2 separate regions of the Homo sapiens genome follow, and region 1 is linked to region 2. The links come from fine-mapping of genetic effects on gene expression. Tissue or cell type: blood mononuclear cells. Region 2 holds a variant in brackets; the other region holds the start of a gene. All regions are shown on one strand. Distances are between the middles of the regions.

Region 1 (5,153 bases), 190 kb before region 2:
AGGGCCTGTTGGGGGGTGAGGGGCTGGGGGAGGGATAGCATTAGGAGAAATACCTAATGTAGATGACGGGTTGATGGGTGCAGCATACCTCCATACCACGTGTATACCTATGTAACAAACCTGCACATTCTGTACATGTACCCCAGAACTTAAAGTATATATATATATATATATATATATATATATATATATATATATATATATATATATATAAAGAATGTGGGTACATGTCTAAAGGACACAGGAACCAGCTTGAAAGGGCTCTCACTGGCCTAACCTGGACCAATTTGAGGATCAAAATAAATACTGATAACGAATTTTTATCCCACTGAACAAAAACAGGAATCCACTGAGAAATTATGAATCTGTATTATATAAAAATAAATAACTTGAAAATTTGGTACATGATCTACATAGTTTCAAAGAACCACTTCACAAAATACTTATTATAGAAGGAAAAGAGGTACTTTACAGCAGAGAAGCTCTGCAGATGCCAGTTTATTTAAATGATCAGAATTAACATCACCTGTAATGGAACAAATGGAAATCATGCGCTACCCAACAGGATGCAGTAAGACCGCCTCACTTCTGTGATCGTCCTGCTTAAGAGGCCAAATTTGAATTTAATCACAAAAGAACCTCCGACAAACCCAAGTTGAGTGACATTCTATAACACAACTATCCTGCAATCTTCATGAAACTTTTGTAGTTAATTGTGATCATCTGACCTATTTCTGGATCATAGGATTTAAATGAAAGAAACTGAACTAGGCTTTAGGAAAAGCCATCATTTTTCTAATAAAAAATGAGGCCAGCTTAGCTAACAACGTTTACCCTTTGTCCTTTCTCTTTATTCTTGTTTATCAGATGCCGTGAACAGATGTGAAAGAATATGATACCCTGCTTGTGACTACAAATACTAAAGTCACAGACTGCAACAAAGCGAAAAAGGATAAACTATTTGGCTCCTTCAGCAATTGCACCAAGCCTGGACCAGTTACTTTTAGGCTCCTTGTTACGTTATCCTTTATTTGATTAAGCCATGTGACTGGATTCGCATTAGGTGTGGCCAAATGCAAACCTAGCCAAAATAACCTGCTTTTTCTTTCTTTTCTTTTCTTTTCTTTTTTCTATTTTAACATATCTAGTTCCCCTCTCTAACCCCAACTTTTTTTTGGGCAGTTTTATTTGTATTGCATGGTATTTACAAATTAATTGAGAAATGATTTTTTATGATGTTTTCTTCTTTAAGCACATAGTATACCTCTCCATTCGTTCTAGTCTTTTTGGGGAGCTTATGCAAGATTTTAAAGTTTTCTTCATATAACTTTGCACATTGCTCTAGACCGAATGTTTGTTTCCCCAAAATTCTTATGTTGAAATCTAATCCCCAATGTGCTGGTATATGGAGGTAGGGACTCTGGGAGGTGATTAGGTCATGAGAGCAGCACCCTCATGAATTCCTATAAAAGAAGTTCTAGAGAGATCCCTCTCCCTTTCCGCCATATGAGACACAGCAAAAATACTGCCCTCTAGGAACCAGGACACACCTTCACTAGACAGCAAATAGCCCAACACCTTGATTTTATCCAGCCTCCAGAACTGTAAGACATACTTGTTTGTTATTTATAAGCCATCCATTCTATAATATTTTGTTATAGCAGCCTGAACTGATTAAAACACACACGTTTCTAATATAATCACAGTTTATTTTTATTGAATTGATGCAAAACAGTGAAATGGATGTTTTTCTGAATTCCAAGAGAATCTGAAAAGACGTTGATGCTAGTTATGACAAATATCAGTCAATGTAGTCAGTTGATTAAATATTACAAGGTCGATTAGTAAATTACATTTTAAAATAAAATGAATACTTTCTATTGCATATCAAACAAGTAGGCATTGTGTGTTCAAGATTCAGACTCATAGAATGGTAGTGAATGTAAAAACTCTTGGAAAGCTTCTTGCAAACACACATTAAATTTTATGAAACCTGAAGAGAAAGAGTATTTACCTCAACCTGGCTTATGTTACTTATTTTTAGCGTCTTTAAGGTATCGTTTATAATTAATTCCCCAGCCTTCTTCTTCTTGTAAATGTAAGCTTAGTGTCTTATGTTCTCAAAGCACTTCATCACCTTAGAATGTCTTATTCTTCTGAACTTAAAAGTTTTATGTTTGGGCGATACATGCGTAAAACAAAACAAAGAAATCTCCGCAGAAATAAATAAGTAACTGTCCATTGTAATGAAAAATGCTTGGATGGATAAGTATGAGTAAATAATATGGGGTCAGAGGAAAAAATATAATGTAAACTTCTAACAAGTTAAGCACGGGTAAATTGTGAAGTGCAATGCAAAATTCACATGAGTGTTTCATATATTAAGTAAAATCCACCAAAACAAAACACTGAATCTTCAAGGCAATTCTGTCCTTCCTGCCAGCTGCCACTACCTTTCTGGCAGCCTCCCTTTATCCCATTCCTCCAGCACAGGGAAATGATGCTCTGGCGACAAAGGGTACTTCCGCAGAAAACTTTTGAGAGGTACCAACTTAACTTCCAAGAGCTTGTAACTTACTCCGGTGATTTTAAGACGAAATTGGTGAGAAAGCTGTTAATATAGTAAAAAGTGCATAATAAATATATACGGGTATTAATCCTGCTCACAATCGCACCCAACACCTGAAAGAATTAAACCCTCCAACACCCTTCGGGTCTTTAAAATCTGGGCTGCGGTAATCCGAGCCCTAAGCGACCTCAGATGTGCGCATGCCCTGTTGGTGGAGCCGTGCTCCTCCTTCCTCGGGTCCGGAAGTCCCGGTTTGTTTGTTAAATTACGACCGTCGTAAACTAGAATTTTCTTGCGGCTTCTTAGCTTTACGATGGCAACAAGTATGGCGGCTGCTAGTGGTAGATTTGAAAGTGCGAAGAGTATCGAAGAGCGGAAAGAACAGACCCGGAATGCCAGGGCCGAGGTGTTGCGCCAGGTACCTCTGTTTTGGGGCTTTTGTAGTTATTTATTGTTGTGGGAGTTGAGGGTTCCCGTAAGCTAGCCCACTCACCCCTTCCCTTACCTCGTCAGTACTGAATCTCACCTTAATTTGGGTGAGTTCTCCCTTTGCAATGCCGGTAAACCCTTTTGTAGCTACCGATTTTTTAGATGTTCTGGCAGGTGCCAGTTGCTAATTCTCTTTTCAGGCAGATCTGTCGCTTTTTCTCCAAGTTTCTTTACCTTTTAAGTTACCCATTCTTTACATTTCTATCACTCGGACTGCACACTTTGTAGGTCCCCTGCGGCTTGTAAGGACTCTGCCAGCATGTCTCGCAGCCTCAGTCATTGCTACTGCTGTATCTGAAATGAGATTTTCCTTTTTCGGAAACACATTCAAGTCACACTTGAATAGACTCAGTTTGACATTTCCTCCTCCTGTCTCTATTGGTATCAATTCCAGACTTACTGTAAGCTCTTACCAATCCAAACAAAAGTTAACACCAATCTCAGTATATTTAGCCTGTCACAAAAGATCGCGAAACATTGTATTTCTCACTAAACTTCAGATACATAGAGGTAACATACAAAGAATGGAGAAAGTAAGCTTCTGAATTATCTGACAATCTATTCAATATGTAAGAAGTGTGGCAATGAAAGAGAAAAGTTGCAGTTGGAGAGCAACAGAGAATTCAGTGAGGGTTTTTGTTTTTATTTAAGTTGGAAGAGTTTTAAACAAGTTTAAATGCAAATGAGAAGGAGCCAGCAGAGAAGAGGGAGAGGAGACTCTAAAGGGAAAATGACATAGTTTCAAAATTTGGCAAATAATTTGAGGGTGAAGCAGCCCCATTCTCCTTTAATCTCCAATTTTCTCACCCTGTTCTTTGGAGTCCATCATAAGCCCTGCTCTTTTCTCTGATATCGATTTTTCTGTTTGGTATATAACCATTGTATTCATCTTCTTGCCTACACCAAGAATTATTATATGCACCCAGGGAAAAGCTAGCTGCAGAATGTTGGACTACCTCTCCATGATTTTCCCTTTTCTGGAATATTAACTCTTCTAGTTCTTGTTGCTTCAGCAGTTCTCTGATATAAACCTTTAATAAATTATTTTTATATTTGATTAAAAAAAAAAAGAAAATGACTACAGCCAGGTTTTAAAGGGGAAGAGTGGGCGATTAGTCTTGGGTAGGTGAAATGTTGGTATTGTTTCGTAATTTCAACATATGTAATGTGTGTGTGTGGGTATATATATATTATTCATTCTTTTCTCTTTGGTATTTCCAGCAGTTTTTGGAGGGAGTAAGTTTCGTAAGTTGAGATAAATCTTATAGTAGAGATATGCATAGAATTTGAAAAGGACCAAACTGAGCTTTGGAGTTACAGGGAAAGAAAGAGGGCAGGAACGATTTCCTAGGAAAAACTTGCTTTGTTTGACTATCATTGAAGAATGGATAAAAATTACCAATATGATCCTTTCTTTATACAGAGATGATTCTTCCTGAGGCATTTTTGGGGCTGGGTATTGGGGCTACAGGCATTGCATATTGAAGGCGTGGAGGTCTAACTGTTGCAAAAGTCTTAAGGCAGTAGCCATGGGAATGGTGAAGGGAAAAGGGATTCCAAGTCATATTGAGCTAGGGAGCTTAGAGAGATGGGAGGGCCTGGACTCAGTCCCTGGATTCTCTCTGATTGGTAACTCAAATCACTGGAGATTGGAAATGCAGAAGGAGAGATTTTTGCTTTGTTTTGTTTATTTATTTATTTTTTTATTTTTTTACACTGGAGAAGCAAATCCCTGGCAAGGAATAGACATTCATTCATGAGTGGATATTTTTGTATAAAAATGACAGAGGTTTTTGTTTTCCTTTTTTTGTGAAACCCAGTTGGGTCAATTGCCAGTTTGTCTTTTTTTTTTCTTTGGTTGTAGGCTAAAGCCAATTTTGAAAAAGAAGAAAGGCGTAAAGAACTTAAGCGACTTCGGGGTGAGGATACATGGATGCTACCTGATGTGAATGAGAGAATTGAACAGTTCTCACAGGTGAATACTAACAGGTTTACGTGATGTAAGGATATCTGTCCTTTTTTGCACGTATTCAAGTTAATATTGGATGAATAATTTTATAGAATGTTTTCATAAGTTACAAAATGAATATCACAT
Region 2 (5,153 bases):
AAGGAACGAACACAATTCCTAATTCTAGAGGACAGAAAAGTAAGTCCTGTTAACAGCCTTCAACGTGGAATCTGTAGAGAACTTGTATTATCTCAGGATCTTCTCATTTGAAAATGAAAATGGTCACACCCACCCTTTTCTTATGATGCAAATCACTGGTCAGTATTTTCATTTTCCAGCAGTCTTCAAAGCTGTAATCCAGAAGGACAATAATCTAGATGTAATTACTATATTAAGCATAAATCAGGTTTGTCATGAACTCAAAGGATAAATTCCCTTTGAGTTCATGACAAACCTGATTTATGCTTAATTCTATATTATTATTAAGGGACAAAGTCTAAAGAATCTCCTATGTTTGTGTTTCTAACAATGAAAATGCAATGGTTTTAAATTTACACATTTCATTTCAGCATATTTGTTTGGAGACTCTTGAACCTTAAGTTGACTGGAAGCATACAGTGAATGTGTTCTTATAATTTATTCCATTCCATTTCCTGGTTAGCTATCTAAATTTTTGGCCTTTGGACTTTCACATTAAACACAATAGTCTACACAATGCCGTAACAGCGTTCATCGCCTTTCAAAGCTAAGAATAGACAATAAATAGTCTGGCGTTTTAATTAGACCCTTGCCTTCGTGTGCATTTCAGCTCCATTCTAGCAAAGCTGAATTATAGATGAGCGTTTGATGCGACTTCAAATATCCCCATTTCTTCAATTGTATCACAATAGACAAAACAGAAATGCAGGATGAGAGCAGTTTTGTTCATTTCTTTTCTTAAATCATATCTTGCTATTTTTTCCTTACAGCTATTTCAATTCAATAAATGTTTCCTATTCTTCCAGCAGTGCAATGATGCTTTTCAGTAGAGTACCTGTCCTCTTAATACATAGTTATTTTCTAAAATGTTGCTATTAGAAAATGAGATAATGAGTCCAATTTTCCCAGTCTCTCTGTCTCTCTCTCGTGTCTCTCACACCTGACAGATGGGTGCTCATGGTGCTGTACCTGGGCTGCCCTCCTAGGAACCTGGGACCAGCTGACATAACCCCCTCTCAGAACATGGAGCTGAATAGGAGAATTCACAGCCAGCTGCCTTGGACTAACCTACATCAAACCTGGGCAGATTATCCAATTGGATTATTGGTTCAAGAAGGCTAGACAGAGAGATGAGGATCTAGGAGGGAGATAATAGGTTGAATAAACCCGGGAGATTAGGTGAATGCTTGATCATTTGAAGCAAATGGCAGGGGTCAGATCTAGAAATTACTGAAGCCTTGTTGTGATGCACGTTATATTACAAATACAGGCAAGACTTGATTTTCCTACCCTCAGAAAAGGTCAGATAATGAGATAACTGCAGTCTGGGGTGACATGTTAGAATAAAGGTGTGCACAAGCTATTGTGAAGGAAATTAAATTACCTAAGGAAGATGGGAGCAGGAGGAAGGTCAGGGGCTGTTTAATAAGAAAGGATACATGGGAGCTGAGTCCTGATGGATGAATAATCTTTTCAATCAGCAGGAAAGAAGGGAAAACATTCCAGAGAGGAGCAACCCAGTGCAAAATCACCAAGTTTTCATATAGCAAATGGAGATGACAAGGATTTGGGGGTGGCTGTAAATAAGGTGACAATGAAGGAGATCCAAGAACTGATACTGGCAAGGTGGGAAGGACCCAGTACATAAAGGGACATCTGTTTTATATTCAAAAGTTAGGATTTTATCTGTGTGTAGTGGGAATCATTAAAGATCTAAAGGTAGGGAAGAGAGATAAATTGTTGCTTAGAAAGCCCACATTGACACCCATGTGGAGGATGCCACAGAAGGACCTGACATTAGAGAAGGGAGGTTAGTTTATAGGCATTTGCAATGCTGTCAAGAGATGAAAAAGATCTGGACCAAGATAGTGGCAATAGTAGGTAAGAGACACATTTGAGAAATATTTTGGAGATAGAATTTTGAAAACAGGTCAAGGTTGAGTCCCAGATTTTGGATGGGTGAAGGGAACACAGGAAGAGAAGTGGTTTGAAGTGTGGTCAGGAGGGATGAACCAAATGAATTGGTTTTAGAGTTTTTGAATTTTCAGAGCTCTAAGGAGTTCTGGAGGATATTTCCAAGAGCAGAATGGACCTCAGGAGAGGGGTGATCCTGTAGATAAATAGGAGCATCAACTCACGGTAAGTAGTTGAAACCATAGCCTGGATGAGATAATGGAAGAGATGGTGATAGTGAAAAAAAATAAAGGCCAAGGACAAAGCCATGGAGAACACTATTATTAAAGAGGAGAATGGAGAGGATGCTGTTATGAAAGTCAATCGCGGTGGAAGTTTTAAAACAGTGACATTTAACACTGTCAAAAGAATCTGAGATTAATTGAAAGGTTGAAAAGCATTTGAGAATTTGTTAGATTTGACAGCAGTGGTCTTAGCATTTCAGTGGAGGGTCAGTTTTGGGTTGGGGAGTAAATGAAAGGTCAAGAAGTCAAGATTGTGACTACTCAATTTTTCTAGAGGCTTGACTATGAAGAGAAAACATGATTTATAATAGCTGGATGAGATAGGCAGGTCACGTATTATCTTCATTTAACAGATGATAAAACTGAAGCTCCGAGAGGTTGTAATTTTCCCAAGGTCGACCACTGGTCAGTAACAGAACAAAAACTAAGTCTCTGGTCTTCAGATTCCCAATTCAGTTCTCTTCTACTTGTCCACTGAATATTTGACAGATCCCCTAGTGCAGGGTATAGGATCACAATCAGACAGTATACATGTGACTATGGTATATTTCAC[C/T]CAATGGTTAAAGTATTAAAGTGGGGGTAGGGGAGGGGAAGAATTGTTTTTCCTCTTGGTCTGAACTTGTGAAATGCACACAGGAAAAGTTCATTTTAAGCCTCATTTGGCATGTTTTCTTGGCTGGGTGTGAATATTCCCAGCAGCCAAGTCCTGTTTTCTTCCTTTGCTTTATCCCTGACAGCCTTGTGCTCCTACTGTGATTTCAATTCATGACCCGAACAAGAATGATGAAAAGTAAATTGCATTCTCATGTATATTGCTATTAGAGGCTAATTACGTAGCTGTCTGAAATCCTTTGTCACTTGGACAATATGCATTGACGGAACCTTATTTCCTTGATTTAAAAAAATGCATTTTATTTGGTGTTTTCTTTAGAGATTAAAGCAACTGTTCTTGCAATGATGCACTGGCTGTTGGAGTCAGAACAGCCATCCGCACTAATGAGGATTACATAAACGTCCCTTGCTCTCATGTAAAGATAAACCTCACATCCAGGCGTGAGGAAACTAGGTCTTGTTCCTAACTCAGATACTACAGACTTAGGTCAACAATGCTGGCCTTCTTCACCAAAGACATAGAATCTTTGAATTAGATGCAGTGCTTTGCAGTGCTTGGAGACAAAGTTCACCAGAAAGATGGTATTGATCTTAGAAAAGATTAAGCTAGGCTGGACGTGATGGCTTATGCCTGTAATGCCAGCACTTTGGGAGGCCAAGGCGGGTGGATCACCTGAGGTCAGGAGTTTGAGACCAGCCTGACCAACATGGTGAAACCCCATCTCTACTAAAAATACAAAATTAGCTGGGTGTGGTGGTGCGTGCCTGTAATCCCAGCTACTTGAAAGGCTGAGGCAGGAGAATCACTTGAACCGGGGAGGCGGAGGTTGCAGTGAGCTGAGATCACGTCACTGCACTCCAGCCTGGGCAACAAGAGAGAAACCCTGTCTCAAAAAAAAAATAAAATAAAAAAGAAAAGATTAAGCTAAAGAGTACATTCACGGCTGGGCGTGGTGGCTCATGCCTGTAATCCCAGCACTTTGGGAGGCCGAGGTGGGCGGATCACCTGAGGTCAGGAGTTCGAGACTAGCCTCAACATGGAGAAACCCTGTCTCTACTAAAAATACAAAATTAGCCAGGCGTGGTGGTGCATGCCTGTAATCCCAGCTACTTGGGAGGCTGAGGCAGGAGAATTGCTTGGGAATACCAGCTACTTGGGAGGCTGAGGTTGCGGTGAGCCAAGATCATGCCATTGCACTCCAGCCTGGGCAACAAGAGCGAAACTCCGTCTCAAAAAAAAAAAAAAAAAAAAAAGTGTGCATTCACATATCTTATGAATTAGCCTGGCTCCCAAATGGACTTTTTGTCATAAATACTCAAACACAAATCTTTATTTCTCAGGCAACCCATTTGCCTTGTCTTGTGAGAAGTAGCCAATTAAAAATGGGCATTTTAGGCCGGGCACAGTGGCTCACTCCTGTAATCCCAGCACTTTGGGAGGCCAAGGCAGGTGGATCACCTGAGGTCAGGTGTTCGAGACCAGCCTGTCCCAAATAGTGAAACTCCATCTCTACTAAAAGTACAAAAAAAACTAGCTGAGCATGGTGGCAGGTGCCTGTAATCCCAGCTACTTGGGAGGCTGAGGCAGAAGAATCACTTGAACCTGGGAGGTGGAGGTTGCAGTGAGCTGAGATCGAGCCATTGTACTCCAGCCTGGACAACAAGAGTGAAACTCCATCTCAAAAAAAAAAGACAGGACTTTTTTTGGAACAGATGCTAACCTTCTTAAGGGTAAGAACCTGTCATACTTTTTTTGGTAATGATTAAAATTATTAATAAATTATATACAATTAAAACAATTATCAAATTCATATGCACACATATTACACATATTTATATGTAATAATTGTAATCCTATAGATTAACAAATGAGTTAATATTTATTATTTGTTTTGCATATTGTCATGCCCAGTAAATAATTTCTGATTGGTTTCATTCCATTTGAGATTCATTAGTAAAATAACTGCAATTTGTAAGTTGAACTAATTACCACTCAATCAAAGAAGCAGTACTGACAAGCGTCAGAGAAATCTGCCTTAAGGAGTCTTTGGCTGAAGAGCTATGTTGAATATATGACTAGAAAAAACAACACAAAGATGAGCGTTTTACTTCAATATTTTTTATGGTTTTTTTTTTTTTTTGCCTGTCAGTTGGATTTACTATCCGGTTATGGCTGATCACAGTGGGAGACATAGGTGCAAATAAAATAGATATTTATGAGCTTTGTTTATTTTATGAGGTTATTAAATTCTTTTATAAAATAAGAACTTAGCAGTGCTAAGATTTTTTTTCTTTCATTCTACA

What was found. PIP is the estimated chance that this variant, and not a neighbour inherited with it, causes the effect.
Region 1: CWF19L2 starts here. The variant in region 2 is fine-mapped to the expression of CWF19L2 in blood mononuclear cells (TOPMed, PIP above 0.99). The same link has a PIP of 0.9 or more in testis.

What each region holds. Positions count from the first base shown.
Region 1 is chr11:107,455,546-107,460,698 of GRCh38, reverse strand. CWF19L2 (CWF19 like cell cycle control factor 2) reads left to right here and starts at 2,874. Exons shown (of 18, transcript NM_152434.3): 1 at 2,874-2,987; 2 at 4,923-5,033. The coding sequence starts at 2,883. RefSeq lists an enhancer at 2,590-3,095.
Region 2 is chr11:107,266,989-107,272,141 of GRCh38, reverse strand. All of the region lies in intron 1 of LOC105369477 (a long non-coding RNA gene), which reads left to right. Among named protein-coding and RNA genes, the nearest start is that of CWF19L2, 190 kb to the left of the region's middle. The variant C/T (reference allele first, on the strand shown) is at 2,791.